Homo sapiens: one gene and its partners. The protein of the gene in region 3 purifies or fractionates together with the protein of the main gene of each other region. This does not show direct contact. Each region holds a gene or a part of one and is shown on either strand. Other genes may lie near its edges.

Region 1 (7,958 bases), on a different chromosome or scaffold from region 3:
GTTGCCTGGATACTGTTTCCCCAGATCTCTGCCCGGCTCCCTCTGCTCAGACCTGTTTATCTGCAAGGCCATCTCTGAGCACTGTGGCAATACCCTGCCCTCCCTGTTATTCTCTGGTCCCCATCCTGGTTTATTTTTCTTTGAAGTCTTTATTACTGACATATCATGTGTGTACTTGTTCTTTATCTGTTTCCCACATTTAGAATGTTTGCTTCAGGAGAGCAGAGACTTTTTGTTCACAGACATGTTTACCCAAGATCTGAGCAACTGGTTGATGAATGAATGAACTACCTTCTGTCCTCAATTCATCCACTTGTTCAGCTTAGTGCCCTACCCTGCACTGGGCTCTGGGGCATCTAGTCATGATAGGTAAGTCCCCACTCTTACACTCTCACGGAGCCTCCGGTTTAAAGGAAAACAGGCAGTCAATAAGAATCACAAATAAATAAGCATTTGTGCAAATGGAGGTGTTACAAAAGAGAAGTACAGCACACAATGATAACATAAAGCATGGGGACTTAACCCTAGTTGGATAAGCCAGAGAGGCTTTTCAGAGGAGGTGACATTTGAACTGAGCCCTGAAACATGAGTGGGGGACTGGCCAGGGAAAGAGCCTTTCAAACAGTGGGAACAGCACGTGTGAAGGCGCTGAGGAAGGAGGGAGCGTCACACATGGGAGGAACATGGAGGGGACAACAGTGTGGAAGCTCTAGTGATGGAGGGGAGAGGAGGGTGGGCCTGCCGGCCTCATTAAGGAGTCTGGAGTGCATGCTCTGAGTGAGCAACAGTGAGTCAGGACGGGTCTGCAGTTGGGCAGGGAGCTGGAACCACACACCCTCTCTCCAGACTTCTTGGTCAAGTGATCTGTGGCCTCCTACTCTGCTCCAGCTGCTGATCCTGTGTCTTGTGTGGGCCCCTCCCTTCTCCCCACCTCTGCATGGGCCCAGCCCCCTCTAGCTCAGCAAGCCCATCTCCCCACCTGCAGCGTGAGTACCAGGACCCCAAGCTTCACCCGCTCAACTTGCTCATCACCCTCTTCCCACCTGAACCAGCCTCCTCCAGTTCCACATGGCCATCAACGGCCCTGCCATTCTCCTGTGACCCCCTGGGACAGGGCAGAGGGGTAGTGCCATCATCCACTTCTCCAACAGTTACAGTCACTCTAGCCTCAAAGTCTCTCCCATGGGAGACTTGCAGTAAATTACTCTGTAAGCCTCAGTTTCTTCTGTTTCATCAGGGGTGGGGGGATAATATCCACAGCCTAGGGTTTTAAGGATACAAGAAAAGGGCCTAGCACGAAGCCTGGCACAGAGTCAGCTTCTTCCTTAAAAACACCCTCCTTCCTCATGGTCCCTCACAGGCATACATCCCTGACTCTCCCCTGTGGTTCCCATTAGCTCGAATTGGAACTGAATCCCACACCTCTCCTTCATGGCAGCCTACACTCTTCCTTCTTCAGATGAGCTACTTCGTTCCTTCATTAAATAAGCATTCATTGGGCATTTACTATGCCCTTGGCACAGAAAGACAAGAAAGATCTCGTGCCTGCCCCTTAAGAAGGTCGCAATCCAATTCAAGGTGGATCTACAGGGATTGGGTAAAGGGGTTTTTTGCACACAGGCTTCGGAATCAGATCTGTGCTCAGGTCCTGTGCCTACCACTCATTTAGCCTTGGTTTCCTCACACAAAAAACAGGAATAATAACACCGCCTGCTTCACAGGGCTGACGTGCAGATTAAGCGTGATGACACATGCTGTTCCATGTTTGAAAGGCTGTTGACTGGTAAATCCTTATTAAGGCTGTTGACTGGTAAATCCTTATATAATCAGTGCTCAGTAATACTTTTTATCTTAAAGGCAAATAACTGTAATAGACTATATTGGATGAAGACCTCACTGCTTTGATCAAGTAATGGCTGGTTTACTTGCTTCTGCTTCTCTCACTAGAGAGGGCAGACAACGGTAAATGTCTGTTGAACGAATACAGACCTGAGGTGCTACAGGAGAGGCCCATAGGGACCCTGAGGAGGAAAGGCATCAGAGAAATTGATCTTTGAGGGCCTGGCCCCACCCTCTCCGGGATCCCAGGGCATTTTACCACATTCTGATTGTAATTACCTGTTTGCTAACATCCCCACTAACGTGAGCTCTCTCTAACCCTGGGGCTATTCTCCAGGCTGCAGCAGGGCAAAGGCGGGGTCCCAACACCATAGAGAACGCCACCCCTGTCCATGCTGTCCCCCACTTCACCTTTTCTTGGAGCGGTCCTTCCACACTCGCCCCGATTTGGGCTTCCCCTTCGGGATTACAGGAAGCTCCTCTTTATTCAACTTCTTGGACGCTGGGGCCTGGGATGAAGAACCTTTTCGCTTCTTTGCCCCGAAGCCGCCTGTCACCGTCTCCCCAGCTGGAGGTGGCTTGCTCGGCTCATGCTGACCCCGGGGGGAGCCAGGTGCCCTGGGTGTCAGCTCCAGTAGTGGCTGAGAGGGCTCCGGACCGGGAGCTTGCTGACCGGGGTAAGGCTCTGGTGATCCTGGGACCGGCGGTAGCTGATGCTGGGGGGCCCCCGGGGTCAGCTCCTCCTTATTCTGGGCCAACTCCGAGGCCAGTACTCCCTGGTCCTGAGAACACTTTGGTGCCTCCTCACTTGGCTTCGGCTGACATCGTGGGGATTCAGGACTGTACTCTGGCTGTCTTTGAGGCGACTCCAGGTGTAGGTCTTGCTGACGCTGGGGGGACGCTGCGCCTGGCTCTGGCTGCCCTTGGGGTGACTCCAAGCCTGCACCCTGCTGCAGACGGGGTGATCCTGGGCTTGTCTTCGGCGGCCTTTCGGGGGACCCCAGGCCAGCCCGCTGCACACTCGGAGGAGACCCGGGCTCCCTCGTTTCTTCTGGGTTCGACTCGAACTCCACAAGGGCCCGTCTCGTCCGCGAAACTGAGGTGAGGCTCTCGGGGGATTCGGGCCTTAGGCCTCCCAGCCGTCGGCTGCGCCTTAACGGTGTATCCATGGCTCAGCCGGTAAGTTTCCACACCCCTGCGCACGTGCAGCCCCCGCCGAAACCGGCGCCTTCCTATGACGTCAGGAGTCGCCGCGTCCGTGACGCACAGGAGGGGGGCTGTTGCTGAGGCGGCCATGTTGGTGAGGGGTGGAGAGGCGGGACCGGGGTTGGGGAGAGTGGGGCTCAGCATGCGCATGCGCAATTCGCGCGAGCGCAGTCAACATGTGATTGATGAGCCAGTCTTTTTCCTGGGATTCGCTTTTGCCTTTCTTGCAAAGTTTCCTGGGGAAAGAAGAGCGAGCAAGTAGAAAAGGGAAAGTGGGAGGACCCATTTCAGGGAGAGAACAGAGTCGAAAAAAGGTCCGAGGAGCCCATAGGCAAGGCCCAGTGGATGTTTTGCAGCCAACTCCGGTGCAGTTGGGCAGAGTCCTGCCCTCCTTGGGCCTGTTTTCTCATTTGTAATAGGGGTCATTTTGCACTAGCTTCGTGCATCCCAAATGATCCTGTCAGAGTCCTCCTCCCACCTACCTGAGGGACTGCTACCTGGGGGTCCTGGAGGTGGAAGATCGGTCTTTTCTGTGTTAATTGTTCACACTCTTGATTCTTCCGTCCTGTGCTTCCGTATATAATCCATAGCTCTCCCTCCCTTTTCAGCGTTTTCAACGTTTGTGAGGGAAGTTGAGGTACCAATAAGATGCACCACCTTTGTCCTGTGGCTCACCTGGGCCCTCGACCAGCTGCATATCCTCCCACGTCCCTCTTCTTCTACCCCAGTTCTAGAAACGGGTTGGATCATCTCCGATCTTCCTTTCAGCCCAGACAGTGGTTTTTGCTCGTGTGTGAACCTGCTTCGCCTCCCCTCCCTTCCCTTGCTATTCACCTGTAAATGTACTTTGCTTACTAAGCACTTTGGGACCTCACCAGTGAGCAGGTGTTGACTTCTGGACCTCCCAAGGCCTAGAGAAGACTCTCGGGATGTGGGGTTGGGGAATGTGGGGCTGTGGAGACTTTCGTGTGAGACCTAGGAGTGGGGCTTTGATTTACTTACAGCATGCTTCTTAGGAAGAACATCTTGGAAGTGGCCCAGTTGTGTAATTCTTGGAACTGCCTGGGGTTGGCCATTAAAGGTCCCAGGGCCCCGTCTGACATTCCAGTGGTTTCTTTTAGAAACCATTGTTTCTCCAGCTGCGGGCTTGTGAGAGGGCCTGGGAAATTGTCCAAGAATATCAGGGATCAGAGTGTCCTCATCTTCCTCATGTTCCTGAGTCAAGGAGACCCCTGCAGGGGGGCTTTGCCTGCCTCACTGCTCCTCTCCGGCCATGCAGCTGTCCACAGCAGAAGCAGCCGGGACACCTCCTTGCCCAGCTCTTCCACCCCCCAACTGTCAGAGGAGTGAGTTCCATTCAGTTCCTTAAATGCCCTGCCCCTGCCTGGAGACCCCAATGATCTGACACTCAGAACCAAGCCCGGCAGGTGTTGCCAGAGTGCTGGAGGAGACTGTATGCCCCTCTGCCCTGCTCCAGTCCCCCTTGGCTTGCCCTGCCTCCTAAGCTCTTGTCCCCAGCTGGAGGGATCACTCTCCAGTGCCGATTGGATCATATCCTAGTCTAGCCTGAAATACTTCAGAGGGTGATCTCAGGTTTTCACCAGAGAGAGGGAGATGTGTTTTAGAGGAGGCCTTTGGGTGGCCCCCAGACATTTGGAGGCACTTTGTCAACCTCAGCATCAGATGGGCTCTGGCCCAGAACCCCCTACTCCCACATGAGCTCAGTTTGTCATTGTCATTATACATGGTGTGCAGAGGCCCAGAGGAGACTCCTGAAATTTTCAGAAGCGCCTGGTGTGGCGATCGCTGTTGGGACCCTGTCTCCTTACACTCCTTTGCTTTCTTTTAAAAATTATTATTATTTTTGAGACAGGGTCTTGCTCTGTTGTCCAGGCTGGAGTGCAGTGGCACAATCACAGCTCACTGCAGCCTTGACCTCCCAGGCCCCAGGGATCCTCCCACCTGAGTAGCTGGCACCACAGGCTCATGCCACCATGCCTGGCTATTTTTTTTTTTTTGTAGAAACGGGGTCTCCCTGTGTTGCTCAGGCTGGTCTTGAACTCCTGGGCTCAAGTGATCCTCCTGCCTCGGCCTCCTGAAGTGTTGGGATTACAGGCGTGAGCCACTGTGCCTGGCCACTCCTTTGCTTTTATTGCAGCTTTCTACATCACAGCTTTCTTGCCTTTAGGTGGTAGGATACTGAGGGGCTTCTCTGTAGCCCCCAGAGGCCACCAACAGGATTGAACTTGCATTGCCCACAAAGGTAATCTGCTCATGGACCCTCTTTTGGCTTCATCCCTGTCTCACTTCCCCACTTTCTTATAGATGCTTGCTGAGGTCATTCTCAGAGCAGACAAATATTGTACTTAATCCTCTTCTCAGAGTTGGCTTCTGCAGAAACCTAGCCTGAAACATTGGTGCCAGCAATGATTGGTCCAGGCATTGTTTCAAGTACTCTCCAAGTACAAATCCATTTCTTAATGCTTCTCCCAACAATCCTGTGAGGCAGGTGCAGTTGTTATTACTCCCAGTTTACAGATAAAGAAACTGAGAGGCTGGGTGCGCTGGCTCACACCTGTAGTAATCCCAGTACTTTGGGAGGCCAAGGTGGGCGGATCACTGGAGGCCAGGAGTTCAAGACCAGCCTGGCCAACATGATGAAACCCCATCTCTACTAAAAGTACAAAAATTAGCTGGGTGTGGTGGCAGGCGCCTCGAGTCCCAGCTACTCAGGAGGCTGAGGCAGGGGAATTGCTTGAACCTGGGAGGTAGAGGTTGCAGTGAACCAAGATCGTGCCACTGCACAGCAACCTGGGTGGCAGAGCAAGACTCTGTCTCAAAAAAAAAAAAAAAAAAAGACTGAGGCACAGAGAGGCTGAGACACTTGTAAAGGTCACACAGCAAATAAGTGGTAGAGGCAAGATCCACACCTAGACTGTCTGATTCCAGAGCCACAACTCTTAACAGTAAATCTGCCTGTTATCCAGGCAAGGAATCAGGCATGGGAAGGCTAAGGTGCTTGCCCAAAATCAGACAGCGGCACATTCAGGAGCCAGGATTGTGGTTCCAGAGGTGGCATGCTTAGCTGCCTTGCAGCTGCCCCCACATGGGCCTTGCTCACCTATTCGTCACACTGATTCTGGTCTGTGTGCTGGGAGGAGGTGGGTACCACCTGGCACACACCATCGTGCAGAATGTGCCGAATCAGCAATACCAGTTTATTTATGTAACCTGAGATCTGCTGACTGATGGAAACCAAGCGCTGGCAGATGGATGGAAGATAGGATCAGGTGTTCTCCTCTGAGTCATTGACCTCCCCCCAGCTAAGGGGTGCTACAGTTGAGAGGGTCTGACAGTCCCCAGATGTCAGAGACCTGGGTCCCCATGGCTTTCTGTTCAACACCTAGCCTTGCCTGAAATACTTCAGAGGGTGATCTCAGGTTTTCACCAGAGAGAGGGAGATGTGTTTTAGAGGAGGCCTTTGGGTGGCCCCCAGACACTTGGAGACACTTTGTCAACCTCAGCATCAGGTGGGCTCTGGCCCAGAACCCCCTACTCCCACCTGAGCTCAGTTTGTCATTGTCATTATACATGGTGTGCAGAGGCCCAGAGGAGACTCCTGAAATTTTCAGAAGAGCCTGGTGTGGTGGTGTACTTGCAGAGTGCTTGAAACAATGCCTGGACCAATCATTGCTTGCCCCGGTGTTTCAGGCTGTGTTTCTCCAGAAGCCAACTCTGAGAGAAGGGCAGGGAAAGGGCCCCTGGCGGTCATCAGCAGCATTAACTGAGCACTTACCACGCGCCAGACCTCTTCTGGGTGCTCCTGTGCTCCCCAGAGCTCCGGTTCGGGAGGGTGATTTTCAGCAGGAGCACGGTACTTGATATGTATTTGTTGAATGAATGGATCCTCATTAGGACCTTACAGGGCTGGGGTGATCATCCTCATTGTACTGACCAGGAAATCCCACTCCCAGAGAGGCTGCGCTTCGGGGCCAGGGTGACACAAAAAGGGCGCAGGGTGAGGTCTGGAGCTCAGGGCTTCTTGACTCTAAGCCCTAAACCTCCACCTCCACCAGGCCTAGGACTGGGACATGGGGCTGACTCAGTCTGGGGTGTCATTGGCAACGAGGATGTTGCTGAGCATGGCAGGAGTGAAGGCAGGACCCAGATGGGCAGAGGTGCAACTGGGCCTCAGCTAATCTTCATTGTGCTACAAAGATCCAAGCTGCTCTGTCTTTTGCTCAAAGCTCTCTCAAGTATTTGAAGTCAGTTTTCTTGTAGCTTTTCCAGAATTGTCTTTTATCCAGGTTAAGCATCTCCTGTTCCTCCCATAACATGATAAGTCTTTGGGAAAGACACCAGTTCTCTACAATGCTTCCAGAATGTGGGGCCCAGAGCTCCTTGTGGCACTAAGGTTGACTGCCCCATGGACGGCTGAGTGGATTTGTCACCTCCCTACTCCATGATCTGTATCAGTGTGGTCAAGATCACATTCAAGCCACCCCATGGACATCTGATTGAAACCCTCAGTCTGGTTCCCGTGGCTGTCAGGCTCTCCTGCTCCCTACATCCCCTTGCTCTGATCTTGGACATGAACCGTTGGCTTTTTCGGATAGTGCAGGATTCTTCCTCTGTCCCTGTTGCATTTTGTTTTTACCTCTCTGGGAGCCCAACTCTCCTCTTTCAGTAGTTACCCCCACTTTCTCTTTTGCACGTGTGAAGAGCTGCTTCTAGGTACTTTGAATCAGGTGCCACTGAGAACGTGGAACACTACCAGGGTGATCGTGTGAGTTCTTACCGTGCATGCTTATCTCAGAGGCTCATCTATGCTGCGTGCTTCTAACAGCTCATTATCAGTTTCAGACCCTTGAGAGGAGGTGGGAAGAGACCTCAGGAGAGGGGTCAAGGGATGG
Region 2 (7,026 bases), on a different chromosome or scaffold from region 3:
CAAGATTATTAGTATTATAAGACTATTATTTTGTTTTTGATATGTAGCAACTAAAGATATGAGTACTTTTCAGAATTTAGGGGACTATGGTAATTTGAGATAATTATCTCTGTTTTCTTTCTTAGCCTGTGGACATCTCTACAGCAATGAGTGAACGGGCACTTGCTCAGAAAAGACTCAGTGAGAATGCATTTGATCTTGAAGCCATGAGCATGTTAAATAGAGCTCAGGAAAGGGTATGTAGCAGTTTTTTAAAAAAAATTATTATTTACCATCAGCCAACTCACACCAATGTACCAGTTTTAATGTCTAAATAAGAATTTTGCTAACTAGATGGTTGAGTTGTAACATCCTTTACCTTATTTTCAATGTCTTATTTTAAATGAAAGTGATTCGAGGCCTGATCATTTATTCAATAAATGTTTATTGTTTACTATGTGGCAGGAACTGTTTCTTGAGAGAACAAAATAGAAAAATTTCCCTGTCCTCACAGAGTTTACAATCTGGTGTATAAAAACAACTAAGTGCCTACAACCCTATGAAATGTGTAGGTATTAATAGTTGCCATATTTCAGCCGAGAAAACTGAAGTAAAGGGTGGTTAAGGCCAGGCATGGTCGCTGATGCCTGTAATCCCAGCACTTTGGGAGGCCGAGGTGGGGGCAAGGAGTCAGGAGTTCAAGACCAGCCTGGCCAAGGTGATGAAACCCCATCTCTACTAAAAATACAAAAATTAGCTGGGTTTGGTGTTGCATGCCTGTAATGCCAGCTACTCAGGAGGCTGAGGCAGGAGAAATGCTTGAACCTGGGAGGCAGAGGTTGCAGTGAGCCAGGATCGCGCCACTGTACTCCAGCCTGGGCAACAGAGTGAGACTGTCTAAAAAAAACAAAAGAGTGATTAAGTGATATCCATAGTCACACAACTAATTAGTGGGGGAACTGGGATTCAAACCCAAGCAATCTGAATCTGGAGTCTGTGCTTTTAACAATGGACAGCCTCTCCATTTCATTTCTACTGTTTTATGGTAAATCAGTAAGTACATGTTCAGACAGGAAATACATTGCTGACAGTGCAAGGTGTTTAGTAAATCTAATTTGTGTGAATGACAGCTGATCTTTATCACAACAAATGTTGGTGACTGAAAAAAAGTATACAAGCTTCTTTAAAAAGTTGTTTTACGGCCGGGTGCAGTGGCTCACGCCTGTTATCCCAGCACTTTGAAAGGCCGAGGCGGGCGGATCAGTTGAGGTCAGGAGTTCAAGACCAGCCTGACTAACATGGAGAAACCCTGTCTCGACTAAAAATACAAAATTAGCCGGGCGCGGTGGCGCATGTTTGTAATCAATCCCAGCTACTCTGGAGGCTGAGGCAGGAGAATCGCTTGAACTCGGGAGGAGGAGGTTGCAGTGAGCAGACATCGCACCATTGCACTCCAGCCTGGGCAACAAGAGAGAAACTCCATCTCAAAAAAAAATAGTCGTTTATGTATTCAAGTGGACAGTTTCCTACATTTAAACTCTTTAAACCTGTGTCATGAATTTAGTCTGTATAAATGTCTCAAAGGAAGTAATTAAGAATCCAGGCTGTCATGACATGTATTACAATACATTTGTATGAGATAGGAAGGGAGGGTGGGGACCCATTGTCATATGAGCTCTTTTTTGCATTTTTAGTGTATCTGTGTGATAGTTTGAAGAATATTAACAGCTGTATTTTTTAGTAGCTGTGCTTTTAGATACATTTCAAAATCTTATTAATGGGATTCACTAAATGTTGTCAAACTGCTTCTTTAGAAAGTTTAGGCAAACATTTAATGTTAAATATGTTTTAAAAGTTAAATATTTAAGTCTGCTTTTCAGCCATTTTTAGTGAATTATTACCAGTGATGTTTTAATCAGGTAATTTTACTTAGTTAACTGAGACTACTTCTTTTCTTCAGATTGATGCCTGGGCTCAGCTGAACTCTATTCCTGGCCAGTTCACAGGAAGTACAGGAGTACAGGTTTTGACACAAGAACAGTTGGCCAATACTGGTGCCCAAGCCTGGATTAAAAAGGTACACAGTATATGCACATATGAAAGTGTCGAACAAAAAGTTTAAATTTTTTGGAAACTGTTTATTAAAACTGCATGAAAAGACCAGTGACTCTAACCAAAGTTCCAAGTAAATTTGCTATGTGTATATGCTCCAGGGCGGACACTGAAGACGGACTGGATTCATGAGAAAATGGCAAATGTATAAATGTGGCTCAAGAGCCACTAACTTATAAGGTTATTTTAAAAATTGTTACTGCTGCTTTTGAAGGGGTGATTTAACTTTATTTTGAACGCTAATAGTGTATCAGGTGCTGTTCAGAATATTCCACAGTTCCTGCTGGACTACTAACCTAATCATTTCAAAGCAGTGGTTCTCAAATTTTTCTTCATCATGGGATACTTTATTACAGGTTTATTTTTAGTGGATCACTGCCCCCAAGAGCCCTCTACCACCTTAATTTTCCATTCCTCTATTCCTTTGCCCTCGCACCCCACCCGCTTCATTAGTGCCTGTGCCTTCTTGTAAGATCTCTTGGCCCCCGTTCCTCACTCCTCTTGTGACCTGTAGCCCCAGGACCTTTTGGTTGTCAGCTGCTGGTTACAGCAAGTGGTTGGGAGGCCCTAGTATTAGCTCTGCATGTGGTGATCTTGCCATGGGACTGGAAGCCTGAGGGAGGATGGCTGGAGTGGGGTGGGCTGTGGTGAAGGGGATGGGATGGAGATTAATCTGTGGACCACCATTTAGGCCCTAGTGGCCTCTGGTGATCCACAGGCTCAATTTGAGAACCACTAATTTCATGACAAAACAGATATGTAAGACCTAAAATCAAGGGAGAGAATGGACGCCTCGTGCTACGAAGATGTAGGTGCATCTGGTTTCAGATTCTGCAGTGAGACCTGTGAACTCCACCTACGGCTGCCTCATCATTGGGGGAGTCTTAGGTGGCTAAGAAGGGCATTCTGAAGAAACGCGTTGTGGTGAAGGGACAAAGCTTGGTTGGATGGGTGATGGGAAATTTGTTACAGGAGTACTGGCAGCATAGCAGTGCTGAAACTGGGAGGCCGCGTGGTCTAATGGATTGGGAAGGTTTCTTTATCCTGTTGTACTCCTGACTCCTTGTGTAATCATGGGCAAGTAACTCTTTGGAATTTCAAAGTCTCTGAGGTGTCTAGTGGTAATCAGTAACGTGATGGTTACCTATAGAGAGTTGCTATGAGTGCCAGTGAATGAGCTGAATTTCTGAAAAATGAGACATTGGTTGCTTTGTGTATTTTAATCTTGTAACATTTATTTCAATTTTGATAGCTTTATCTTTGTTGATCTTACTAACAAATTAATATGAAACATCATGTATACTCATTATGCCTGCCTTTTTTTGGGAAGTAGTTGCACTGATGTGTATAGTGAGTACACAGTTAGATTCATTAAGAAATTACAATTTCTGCAGTTTGCTGAGGGTTGGTGTTAGAATAAAGGGTGAAAATGTATATAGCAAAATATTTTAAAGATTGGATTAATCTTGGACTTCTATATTATAGTTACTATGAAAGTGATTTATATAATATTTGAAAAAATGTCTTTCATCTTTGGAAGAACTATAAATGTACATCTATTTCTTTAGTTTTAATTCTTTAATACTATTTAGTCTTGAAGCTAAGTACTCAGCCAGTATTTCAGGAAGTTAGAAATAAAGCTTATGGGTGTTAAAATAGGCACATAATACAGAGTCATGTACACTGCTAGGTAGAAACTTCTGAATGTGCTTCCATTACAAAATTTTGGTCTTTATCTAATGATGTGCTGATCCATAATGTTTGTATACTTATAAATGTGTTAATAACTTAAATAACTTTTAAAAAGTGAATCTTTTACTGACTCAATTGGTTTTCCCCTAAAATAATTTCTTCTGGTATTTGCAGTCTTGTAGGCAGTTAACAGACTTTAATAACTTTAAAATGTTTAGTAGCACCTTGAAAAAAGGCTTCAACTTTATATTTTATGTAAGATATACTTTGGGAAGCAAATTATTTTGATAAATTATGAGATAAAGATATGTTCAGACCAAATTTTAAATTATAGATAAAAGTAGCACTTAAAGGAAAAGATTCATTTGTATAGAATTACTGAAGAATATTTGATGCTAGTATCAACTAAAAAAGAAACTTTTGAAAATTAAAAATGGGCCACAACATGTAGAAGTCATTAGGCAGCTGAAAATTTAGGATGTATGATCCATGTTAAATATCACAAATATTGTCTACTCATTAAATGTTTAGTTGTGTTTAGAAAACCTGTCAAACGATCATTTTGGCTCTTCTTTAGTATAGTCCAGCATCTGCCTTATGTGTTAAAAAACACATGGAATACCAACATCCTCCGTGTTCTTTTTAGTTTGTTGCAGTGTATTTTTAGATTACAAAAAAAGCAAAGTTTTATCAGTAGTCTCATTAATCAGTAAAACATTTAAAGTAGTTCGTTTAAAAGAAATTTTATTTCTAGAATGGAATGATTTGGATGTGACCTGATAAATACAGTTTGTTATTGTGGTCTCATTAAATTAATCAGCTTTTTCACACTGGGGTAAAGAAACAGATGATGATACTAGGGAATGGAAACAAAATTGGAAACCTGGGTTATTTGGGGATTTATATTGTACTCTGCACAGTTGCCCTTTTTTTTAGGCGTGTTCCCTGGAAAAGAGGGACGGATGAACCTGGAAGTAAGTAAAAGACATTCTAGGTGTGTAGCATCAAGGCAGTTAATATCCAAGCATCAGCTTTCTCTTTATACATCTACACTGCATGGCCTGCACCAAATAAGGAACTGAACCAGGGGTATGTTTTTACCTCCACAGCTGCCTCCTTCCATCAGAGCACCTTGATGAACTTAATGTCTAGTCACACGTCATTGGCATGTTTTCTCCCCAGCATTTAATTACAAAGCTGGGAAACAAAAGATGATAGATACAGTTTTACTACTGCATACAAACATTTCTTTTTTACATTCAGTATTAACTTATCAATATAGGAGATGTGCATACTATTTCCTGAGCTACTGAAGTTTTTTTACTCTCTCTGTTGATAAGTTAATGACTTTTGCTATATTATATATTTATATATATATATATATATATATTTGGTAAGAGAACATAAAAACCTAAAATTTAGTAACAAGGGGAAAATAAAGCATGATTTGGAGATATGTTTCAAATTTTTAAAAAATGACCATAAAGATCAACAGTACAACTTAATACTGTTTGCTATATGTACATGGATGCCCTTTAATAAGAGGCATTGAATATTTCTTAACCTGTAAAAATAACTGTTGACCATGCTAATGTATATATACTTGTGCATCTTAGGACATTAAGTGGTTTGCTGCTTTGATGGAAATTATGGTTCAGTGGGTTGGATACAAGAGAGATGACTGTTCACAGAATAACCTGTGAACTTTCACCCCTCTGTATGGAAACTTGTTTCAGGGCCAAATCCTTGTAGCTGTCTTCTTGCCCCGGTCAGTGCCAGCCGTACTATTCACAACACTGCTGCTACCGAGGCCTAGGTATGTAAACATTTAAGGAGTTTTTTAAAAGTCTTTTAACATCAAGCTAGGTTTTAAAAGAATTCAAATTCATTTTGGCATACTTACAGGATATTTTATGTGATTGTTTTCTATTTGTTACTGTGTAAATTTCAAGAGTTTTTTTTTTTTTTTCTGCTTTAGGGATTTTCTAAGTAAAATATTTATACTTGCTTTATAGTAGAATGGGGAAGAAAACTTTGGATGACAACAGTATGCTTCTTCAGTGTCTAAACTATTTCTAAGTGATTTCTGGGCTTTATTCATAAACTAGGTACACCTGGGACAATTAATATCATTGATTGTTTTAACATTGCCTTCTTTTTATTTTGCAAGCTAAGAAGAGATACCAGTGAACCTAAATAGTGGACGAAAACAGGAGTGTTCTAATTTTTTTTTTTTGAGGGGGGCACGAGGGCTACTGTTTCAAAACTGCCATTTACTTGTCTTATTTGACTTCCAAAATACTATTACGTTAATGTGCAAATAATCAGAACATACACACTACAGTATGTATAAAGTATAGAGGAATTTACATTTAATTGCTATAACAGATCTAGAAGTAAAGTAAGATTCCTCTTTTTAGAAAGTAAACAATGAATCTGTCACCAAGTTCTAACTGTAAAATGGGGACATTTTACCTTTCTTTCTTTGGATAGGATCAGTTCTTAAGAGCAGCCCCGGTAACTGGAGGAATGGGAGCCGTTTTGATGAGAAAAATGGGCTGGAGAGAAGGAGAAGGATTAGGAAAAAACAAAGAAGGCAATAAGGAACCCATCCTAGTTGATTTTAAGACAGACCGAAAAGGTAACAAGTTCTTTTTTGGAATGTTTATTAACGTCTCCTTTAACATTACCTTTAATATATCCTTTTGAACCCAGTGATACTGAACTGAAGGCACTTCTTGTATATATACAGGTATTTGTCAGAAAAAACATTAACCCCTTTTGGGGTTCACAGAGCAGCTTATTTTTATATAACTATGGATAGAGACACCAGTTTGAACTTTTAAAAGGCACCTTTTGTTATGCTAGTTGCTAAATATGGAAATGTGTATATATCTAATTTTATTATTACACCTCCAAATTCAACTGGATTTCATGTTTAGAAAACAGGATTTCCATTTTATTTTCTCTTGACAAGGAACCATCCTTTTTTCTAGAGTTTAGTTTATTTTTTGTTAGATATTTTAGCACATCTTCATTATTTCCTATTACAATACTGGTTTAGTCTAGATTTCATAAACCCTGTTTGCTTTTTTCTTCCAAGCTCAGTAGTTAAGTTGGGTTAGAGTATAGTAGACCAGCTGCTGACAATAATGTTACTTCTTCCTGTTGCCTTGTGTTAAGGCATCTTGGAACTGTTAGCATTGACTGTATTTTCCTTTTACCTTCAGATACCTGGGCAGG
Region 3 (7,875 bases):
GCGCCCCCGGGGTGACAGCCTGAAGAGGATGTGGAGCCGCTGCCCCCGTCTAGTCTCAAGCCAGAGTCTGGGGAGACGGGGTGGAGGCAGCTGCTGAGCAGATGTCTTGCAGCCTTTGCTGCGCTCCACGGCCCATCACCCTCTGTGGCCCCTCACCCTCAGCCTGGGTGGCAGCCTCCATGGCCTCCAGCCTCTGCAGGTCCCGCAGCCGCTCCTCCAGCAGCCGCTTCTGCTGTTTCCGTTTGCGCCTCATCTTCTTCCTCTTGTTTTTGGACAGCTTACCGGTCTGCTGTCAGAGCCAGGGTCACCCCAGGGTTCCTGTCGCCCGCCCCAGTCAGCATGAAGTGGAGGTTTCCCTGCACAGCCGCCAGGGAAGAGGCCTCTCCGGGCCCCAGGGCTCCCATGGACACCAGAATGTGGCGCCAGCGCCCCTTGGCACCAGCTACTCACTACTCTCCCTGCCTCCCCGCCTGTGGCCCCACTCCCCACAGCTCCATTAGGAGTGGGAAGACCTGGCCGGCCCGCCTCAGGGTGCTCTCTGTCCCCTCTCAGCCCAAGCTAAGGCAGGCGGAAGTGGCCATTCGGGGAAGACAGCATCCTTTCACCAAGAGCAGTTTGGGGCACTTGACCCCCCCCGGGAATTACCGTCAGCCCAGCCACCCAGCCTTTCGGGATTACCACCGTGGGAGTGCGTGAAGGTGGGGGGTGGAGCCACTGTGGCTCCAGAGATGGCCTCCAGTTGGCTCAGATGGGAGAGGAGGCATGGGAGAGAGGGGCCCCCCAACTTACCAAGACCTCCTGGGGGGCAGTGCTGACTGGGAGTGCAGGTGGGGAGCGGTGGGGGGGGACAGGGAGGAACAGAGACTCAGGCAGGGGTTCAGGCCCAGAGGCCCCGACCCAGCCCCATGTGGGCCCTTGGTACCTATGGAGCGGGAGGGGGGCGGCGCCCCTGCCTGTTGCCACTCCGTGGCCTCGGCAGCCAGGCGCCTGATGTAAGCGTCCCCCACACACAGCAAGATGTTCTCGGGCTTGATGTCCGTGTGGATGATCTTGCACTTGGTGTGGAGGTAGTCCAGGCCGTGCAGCACCTGCAGAGAGTCGCACCTGACCTCCTCCAACTCCCGCCCAGGCCAGGCTGGGCAGCCCAGTGGGTGGCACTCACCTGCCTCACGATGCTCTTCACGCAGGGCACGGGCAGGCCCTGGTAGTTGGACTTGATGATCCATTTGAGGAGCTGGTGGCCCAGCACCTCCAGCACCATGCACACATCTGGGCTGGGAGTGAAGGGCGGCCAGTGGACACCAGCTGCGGCACAGGCCCCACCCACCCTCAGCTAGGGGAGCAGCAAGGCTTGGGCCGTGTGGAGGTGGGGAGGCAGGGCCTCCCCTGGGCAGTCCTGGTCACCATTATGCTGGTGTCATCATCGATAGTGTCCCTGTCAGTCTCAACAGGTATGCCAGTTGGGATGGTGCATTTTGTGGTCATCCTAGAGGTGGCGCTGGAGGAGCAGGCACAGAGGCCTCTCGGGCCAGCCCACTCCCATGCTAGTTATGCCATAGGGCCTCTTGGCAGTCCCCCAAAGGGAAGGCAGTGCCACAGAGACAGCACCTGCCGTTTGGGGATAATAGCAACGTCCATGGACAATCAACGCTAGCTTGTTACTGCCTCCACGTAAACACAGTTACCTGGGGGCGGGGTCGTGCCAGAGGCTCCCGTTACTGGGAGGGATGCAAGCCCATTGTGCGGGTCTGCAGACAGGCTCTAGCAGCGAGGGCCCCCCCATTTGCCGGCCCTTGGCTGCCACACTGCTTTGCTCTTCCTGCAAAGGATACGGACTCCATTGACTCCTGAGATCCTGAAGTCATCAATGAGCTGGACAATGGTCTCTCTTTTGGGGTCACTGGGGTCGCTGTCCCGGACCTGGAGCAAAAGCCAAGGGGCCACAGATGGTTCCACCCTGCCCTGAAGCCCACAGCTCCCTTCAGTGTACCCTTCTCCTGCTCCAGCTGGGCCCTGCTGGAAGAAAGGCCGCCAACCCCTCCTGTCCCTCGCCTGTTCCTCCAGATCCTCCCCCTTGGGCACAGCCAGCTGGAGGCTGCCCCTCAGGGAGCCCCGCCCTGCCCCACAGAGCCCCGGCAGGCCTTGCACCCGCATTGCCAGGCCCCAGGCAGCTCCAGGGGAGCTGGGAGTGGGGTAGGGAGGTGCCTCACACATTTCAGGAGCTTGATCTCATCCACAGCTGTCTCCGTGTAATGCCCCGCACTCTTCACCACTTTGAGGGCCACAAAGCGCTTGCGCCTGCAATACCGAGACCCTTGTAGGCTGTGGCCCTGGCAGGACCCACGGCGGGGATCAGGGTGGCCCCAAGCAAGCCCAGGGACAGGATCCCAGCCAGTGCTGGGCCCCGGAGGCGAAGGAGGCACTCACTGGATGTCCCAGCAGAGCCAGACGGTGGAGAAGTGGCCCCAGCCCAGTTTGCGCACCACGTGGTACCGCCCATTGAACACGTCGCCGATCTTCACAGGGTGGTAGCCGCCTGCCCAGGGGAGATGTAGATTGGGGTGGAGGGGGTTCTCACTCCCCTGGGCCCCCGAACACCTCGGCCCCATTGACCATCTGGCCCATGTGGGCCCAGGACTGCCCTGGGTCCCTGCAGTGGCCGTGAGGCCGCATGTCCCCAAGGCCAAGTCTCACCCTTGCAGTAGTCTTTGGGGTCTTCCTGTTCCTCGTCGTCGGAGCCCAGAAGGCCCTGCAGCATCTGAGGCACCGGTGTGGCCAGGGCTAGTTCGGAGCCCGAGGACTCGGGCCCGCAGGAGGCCTGTGAGCTGCGGGTGGGGTGAGTGGCAGTGGGCATGAGAGACGCCAGGGGCTCCGGGTGCCCCAGCCGAGCCCTACCTGCTGCTACTGCCGCCGCTGCCGCCGCTGTCCCCACCACCGCCCGTGCTGGCGCTCATCCCGGCCACGCAGCCCGCAGCTCCGGTGCCCCGGGCGGCTGCTCCTGTGGGGCCCGGCCGCGGCCTGCGAATTTATAGCCTTGGCCGGCCGCTGATCTCACCCGCCTTTATAAATAGCCTCCCAGCTGCTCGGCTGTGGGCAAGGTATGCGGTGCGGGGAGGGGGCGGCGCGACGGCGGCCCCAGAGAGCCCGGCCCCCGGGCAGAGGCCCCCCTCCTGCTCCAGGCCCACCCTGGAGGCAGAGGGGGCTGCTGCTTGGGGACCAGGGGCAACTGGGCCCCCAGGCTGAGCCTCCGCACCCCAGCTGAGGGGGAGGTCCACGCGGGGGTGAAGCAGCCCGTACCCCAGGTCGGGCTCCCGTTCTCCGGTGCGGACTGTGGGGATGTGCTCCACTTGGCAACCTGGTCCTTAGGCCAAGCCCCCACCACCTGTGCCCCTGTGGGCATCCTCCTGGAGGTGCCCTTCTCATTCCCATGGGAACCCTGTCCCTGGCTGCTCCCAGCCACTTCCTGCTTCTTCTATGTTTCATCAGCCCCTAGGACAACTGGGAGTCCAGTGCCCTCTGAATGTGGCGTCACTGGGGACCCCTCATTTCCCCTACCAGAGGCAACAGGCCTGCTGAGGGGAGGCCTGGGAGCTTGCCAGCCCAGAACCTGCTCCTGCGACGCTGCCTGGCGCTCTGGCTCCCAGCGCCTGCTCTTCCTCTCCACCATTTGCAAGGTGCCTGTCGTGGGCTGCTCCATAGCCAGACATGAGGGAGGCAGCAGGAAGCTGCTCACTGCTGGGGACAAGCAAGCCCATAGCCACTTCCCCATGAGTGCGGTGGTGACTGAGGGGCCTGTGACCCAGGGGCTGCATCATGAGAGACCAGGAGAAATTGGGTCCCCAGAAGCATCCAGGGCAGCACAGGGCACAGTGGGGCAAGGCCTGCGGCCAAGACGCGTTCCAGCCCTTCACGTGCTGGCCACGGCTGCCGCATGGTTCGAGGGCGAGGACTAGAGGCCTGGTGTCTGTAGGCTTAATGTGGAGCTTGGGTGATATGGGGTTGGGGGGTGGTCACTGAGCTTCTGCTCAGCAAAAGATCACTCTGGCCACTTCAAGGACAAGGGAATGGAGAGGCGAGGGTGGAGCCGGGAGGCCAGCTGGGGCCTGACAGAGGAGTCCCAATGAAAGGGAGGGGGCTCGGCAGAGAGGGTGTTTGTCCCAAGATATTGGTGCAGTGTCCCTGTACCAGGGTCCGTGAACTGGTAGGGGTGGGCCAGGCATTGCTGGAGGGGCCAGCGAGGTCAGAGAGTGGGAGGGAAAGTGAAGCCCGGGTACCTGATGGCCTCTCTTTGTCTGTGGGTAGCAGGTTATAGGCATGGGGCTGAGGGACTCTCAGTCAGGAGAGCACTGAGTCAGCTCCTGCAGGGAACAGCAGGGGCTGGGGATTGGGCCCTTTGTCAAAAGACATTTCTGGCCAGGCGCGGTGGCTCATGCCTGTGATCCCAGCACTTTGGGAGGCTGAGGCGGGCAGATCACCTGAAGTCAGGAGTTTTGAGACCAGCCTGTCCGACATGGGGAAACCCTGTCTTTACTAAAAATACCAAAATTAGTCGGGTGTGGTGGCACACGCCTGTAGTCCCAGCTACTCGGGAGGCTGAGGCAGGAGAATTGCTTGAACTCCGGGAAAAAGAGGTTGCAGTGAGCCGAGATTGCGCCACTGCACTCCAGCCTGGGAGAGAGAGCGAGACTCCGTCTCAAAATAAAATAAAAAGACATATTTCTATTTTATTTCCGGATGTGATTTTCCAGCAGGCAAATAAATACAATGGGGAGAGGGGGAAGGAGGGGGATCCTTATAAATTAGAAACAATCTCAGGTGGGGGGAAGGTGGGTGGGCTGGCAGGGGAGGTGGCAGGCAGGGAGCCCACTGCTGGGCACAGTGCCTGGCTTTGCACCCTGTGCCCCCAGGCTCTGCCAGCTCCCCTCAGTGGCTGGCTCGGTTCCGGGGTCATAAGGCGCTGCGGTGTTGGTGGATCCGGCTTGCTGCTGTCTGAGCCAGAGCTCACAGGTCAGTCACTTTGTTTTCCACCAGGGCGGCGACCTGCTGCAGGCGGCAGGCCAGCTGCAGCTTCTGGCCCACAGGGTCCTCCTCCAGGGCACTGATAATCTGCCCGGGCAGAGGAGGGTGCCTGTCTGAGCCTGCCCCTCTGCCTGCTGGCCCAGGGCCACCCACCCTGCTTCCATCACCGCAGGAGCCTGGGGATCCAGCAGGGGCTGCCTGGCGTCTCCCTGGGGAATCAGAATGAAAGCCGAGTCCCTTCCCCAGCCTGGGCCCCGCCAGCATGGGCTGGCACCCCTGCTCCCCCGGGAGGGTCCACGGGCCTCCCGCTCCACTGTGCCTCCCCTCCGGAGTGCCCTGGGCCTCACCTGATCATAGTACCTGTGGATGTGGTTGTAGAGTTCTTGCAGAGCCTCCAGACAGTGGGGAGCAGAAGTGTAGTTCTGGGGGCACCACGTGGAGGGGGGCAGTGAGGTCCCAGCCTGGTCCTCAAGCCCCAAGTCTCCCCCCTCTGCTCTGCTAGTCTTTCCACCCACGTGTGGACAGGCGCACCCCCCGGGCCATGCCTCACCCCGGAGAGCTCAGCCAAAGCAGAGTTCATCTCCTGGTAGCTCGCCGGAGAGCTCTGGCGAATGTCCGCATAGTACCTGGAGGAGCAGACTTCGTTAGGGGTGGGGCAGCCCCCTTCCCCGCAGCCCCGATGCCTCTGACACCCACCTCTCCACCATCTGCTTGTAGCGTGGGATCTCCCGGGCGTAGAGCAGTTTGTTCACTGGGGAATCCTGCTCCGGAGGGAGGGGAGGCGCTAGGCATGAGCTCGGAGGTGAAGGTGCCCCCATGATGCTGCCACTGCCCACCCAGAGCTCTGTGCACAGCCCTCTAGGCTTCCCCCATAAGCCTTTCCTCCTCAAGCCCCTGCCAGCTGCTGCTGCTGGCACTGCTCTCACCCGGCCCACTTTATGCTCCGAGGTGGTACAGGAGTCAATGAAGGTCTGGGCGATGACAGCAAGGATGGCGTCCACATTGTCCGACACCCGTACATCAAAGATGAGCTGTGGGTTCTTCAAGGCATTCACCCAGAACCGCAGCAGCAGACTGGGGGCGCAGGGCAGGCGTGGGCGTGAGGCCCTGGCCTGCCATCGTGATCTCCGCCCCATGTACTCCAGCCTACTGGCAACACACTCGGAGCCAGGGGCCGCTGGAAGCTGGCCTGGTGGCCTAGGTGACCTGGGCCCTAGATCTTCCTGTAAGTTCCAGAAACCCCAGGTGGGCGCATCCACCCTGGGAATGTCCTGGTCTCTCTGGGACTCAGTGGACCATATGCACAGCAGGGGTGGGGCAGCAGGAAAGGCACCTGTTGGTCTTCCAGATGTGCAGGGTCCCTGGGTCCTCGATGCCGTGCTTCTCTGCTAGCTCATCCAGAAGGTCAAACAGGTACTTGACGGCGATGGGGATGGGCCGGTTCACGCTGAGAATGGCCTGGAAGGTGTCGTCCACAAACTTCTGCAGCGTGCCCTGCGAGGCAGGGGATAAGGGCTGTGTGGAGGGCAGGGTGTGGGGGCCATCCACGGCTGAGGCTGCCCCTGCCCCTCCCACACCCTGGCTCGGTCGGGGTCCCTGGCTGAGCCTCCTCTCAGGCCCAGCCACCCAGGCCGCACCAACCTTCATGGACAGCAGACGGGTGAGGTAGATTTCCGGAATGGCCTTGGCCCTTGCTGGCTCGCGCTCCCGCAGGCTGCTGCACCGCACCTTGGCCCCTTCTGGCTCCTCGGTGGCTTTCACCAGGTGCCAGAGGCACACCCCCCCCTCCTCGCCATCCTCCAGCGTGGGTATGTCTGAGGGCACAGGAGCCTGGCTTCAGGGCTATACCCCCTGCCCCTGGCCTGGGATGCCCAGTCCACTCCCCCGACAAGGTGGGGCAGTGTGGGGACTGGAAGAAAGGAAGGAGATGGGCAGAAGATCTCGGTGGGGTGGGGGATGAAGTTGAGGCAGATGCATGGCCAGGAGTTCTGCCTGCCCAGCCTGGACTCCAGTGGCCCCAGGTCAGGGCCGAGGGACTCACTCTCTCCCAAGGGGCACCTCTGGGCCAGGCTCTGGGAGATGGTGCTGCCACGGTGCAGCTGAGGGACGAGCCCCACTGTTGCTCCATCTGGGACCTGGCAGAGATGGGGAGCGGAGGCTGTGCTGACCCCTAGCCAGGCGCCTACACCGCCCACATCCTGCCCTGCCTCGCCCTTCCCCGCCCCAGACCCGCCCTGCCCTGCCTCGCCTCACCCTGCCCCACCCCATCCCTGCCCTTCCCTGCCTTGCCTCGCCCCGCCCCGCCCCCCATCCCCGCCCCAGCCCCGCCCTGCCTCGCCCCGCCCCATCCTCGCCCTGCCGTGCCTCGCCCCGCCCCAGCCCTGCCCTGCTCTGCCTCGCCCCTCCCCACCCCAGCCCCGCCCTGCCCCGCCTCGCCCCAGCCCCGCCCTGCCTCGCCCCGCCCCAGCCCCGCCCTGCCTCGCCCCGCCCCAGCCCCGCCCTGCCCTGCCTCGCCCTGCCCCGCCCCAGCCCCGCCCTGCCTCGCCCCGTCCCTGCTCACACCTTGTAGTGTTGCAAGGTGTTGAGTCTCTTCCAGTGGTTTTGGGTCACGGAGGTCAAGTCTTCGTCCGATAGGGTCAGGTGACCAGCCAGGCCTGAGCGCCACTCTGGAGGGAGTCAGGGAAGCAGATAGTCTACAGCCTGCTCTCCACGCCCCACACTCATAGTAAGACACAGTTGAGGGGCTCCAGGTGCCGGAGGGGTAGGGAAGGGTCCCTGGGGTGGGTGGGCAGGGCTGGCTCTCTCACCAAGGTCTAGGGCATGCACTGAGGGCCTCTGGGAGAAGGGGGTGCCCTT

What was found.
Region 1: the proteins of SRPK3 (region 3) and CCDC86 purify together in Homo sapiens (affinity purification with mass spectrometry; 3 studies listed by BioGRID and IntAct, with this or other methods). This does not show direct contact.
Region 2: the proteins of SRPK3 (region 3) and SON purify together in Homo sapiens (affinity purification with mass spectrometry; 3 studies listed by BioGRID and IntAct, with this or other methods). This does not show direct contact.

Annotation. Positions count from the first base shown.
Region 1 is NC_000011.10:60,837,175-60,845,132, reverse strand, and holds the start of CCDC86 (coiled-coil domain-containing protein 86), read right to left. Parts: upstream 3,021-7,958; 5' UTR 3,009-3,020; coding exon 2,251-3,008; intron 1-2,250.
Region 2 is NC_000021.9:33,567,032-33,574,057, forward strand, and holds part of SON (protein SON), read left to right. Parts: intron 1-125; coding exon 126-236; intron 237-1,939; coding exon 1,940-2,056; intron 2,057-5,519; exon of another isoform or gene 5,520-5,599; intron 5,600-6,276; coding exon 6,277-6,424; intron 6,425-7,026. UniProt on the Homo sapiens protein: RNA-binding protein that acts as a mRNA splicing cofactor by promoting efficient splicing of transcripts that possess weak splice sites.
Region 3 is NC_000023.11:153,776,166-153,784,040, reverse strand, and holds the start of SRPK3 (SRSF protein kinase 3), read right to left. Parts: upstream 3,001-7,875; 5' UTR 2,955-3,000; coding exon 2,896-2,954; exon of another isoform or gene 2,826-2,895; coding exon 2,695-2,825; exon of another isoform or gene 2,537-2,694; coding exon 2,428-2,536; exon of another isoform or gene 2,299-2,427; coding exon 2,211-2,298; exon of another isoform or gene 1,921-2,210; coding exon 1,833-1,920; exon of another isoform or gene 1,270-1,832; coding exon 1,163-1,269; exon of another isoform or gene 1,089-1,162; coding exon 923-1,088; exon of another isoform or gene 816-922; coding exon 790-815; exon of another isoform or gene 290-789; coding exon 157-289; intron 68-156; coding exon 1-67. Other genes in the region: PLXNB3 (plexin-B3), read right to left, coding at 5,002-5,106, 5,367-5,441, 5,570-5,645, 5,716-5,780, 5,946-6,093, 6,353-6,513, 6,661-6,833, 7,061-7,154 and 2 more. UniProt on the Homo sapiens protein: Serine/arginine-rich protein-specific kinase which specifically phosphorylates its substrates at serine residues located in regions rich in arginine/serine dipeptides, known as RS domains.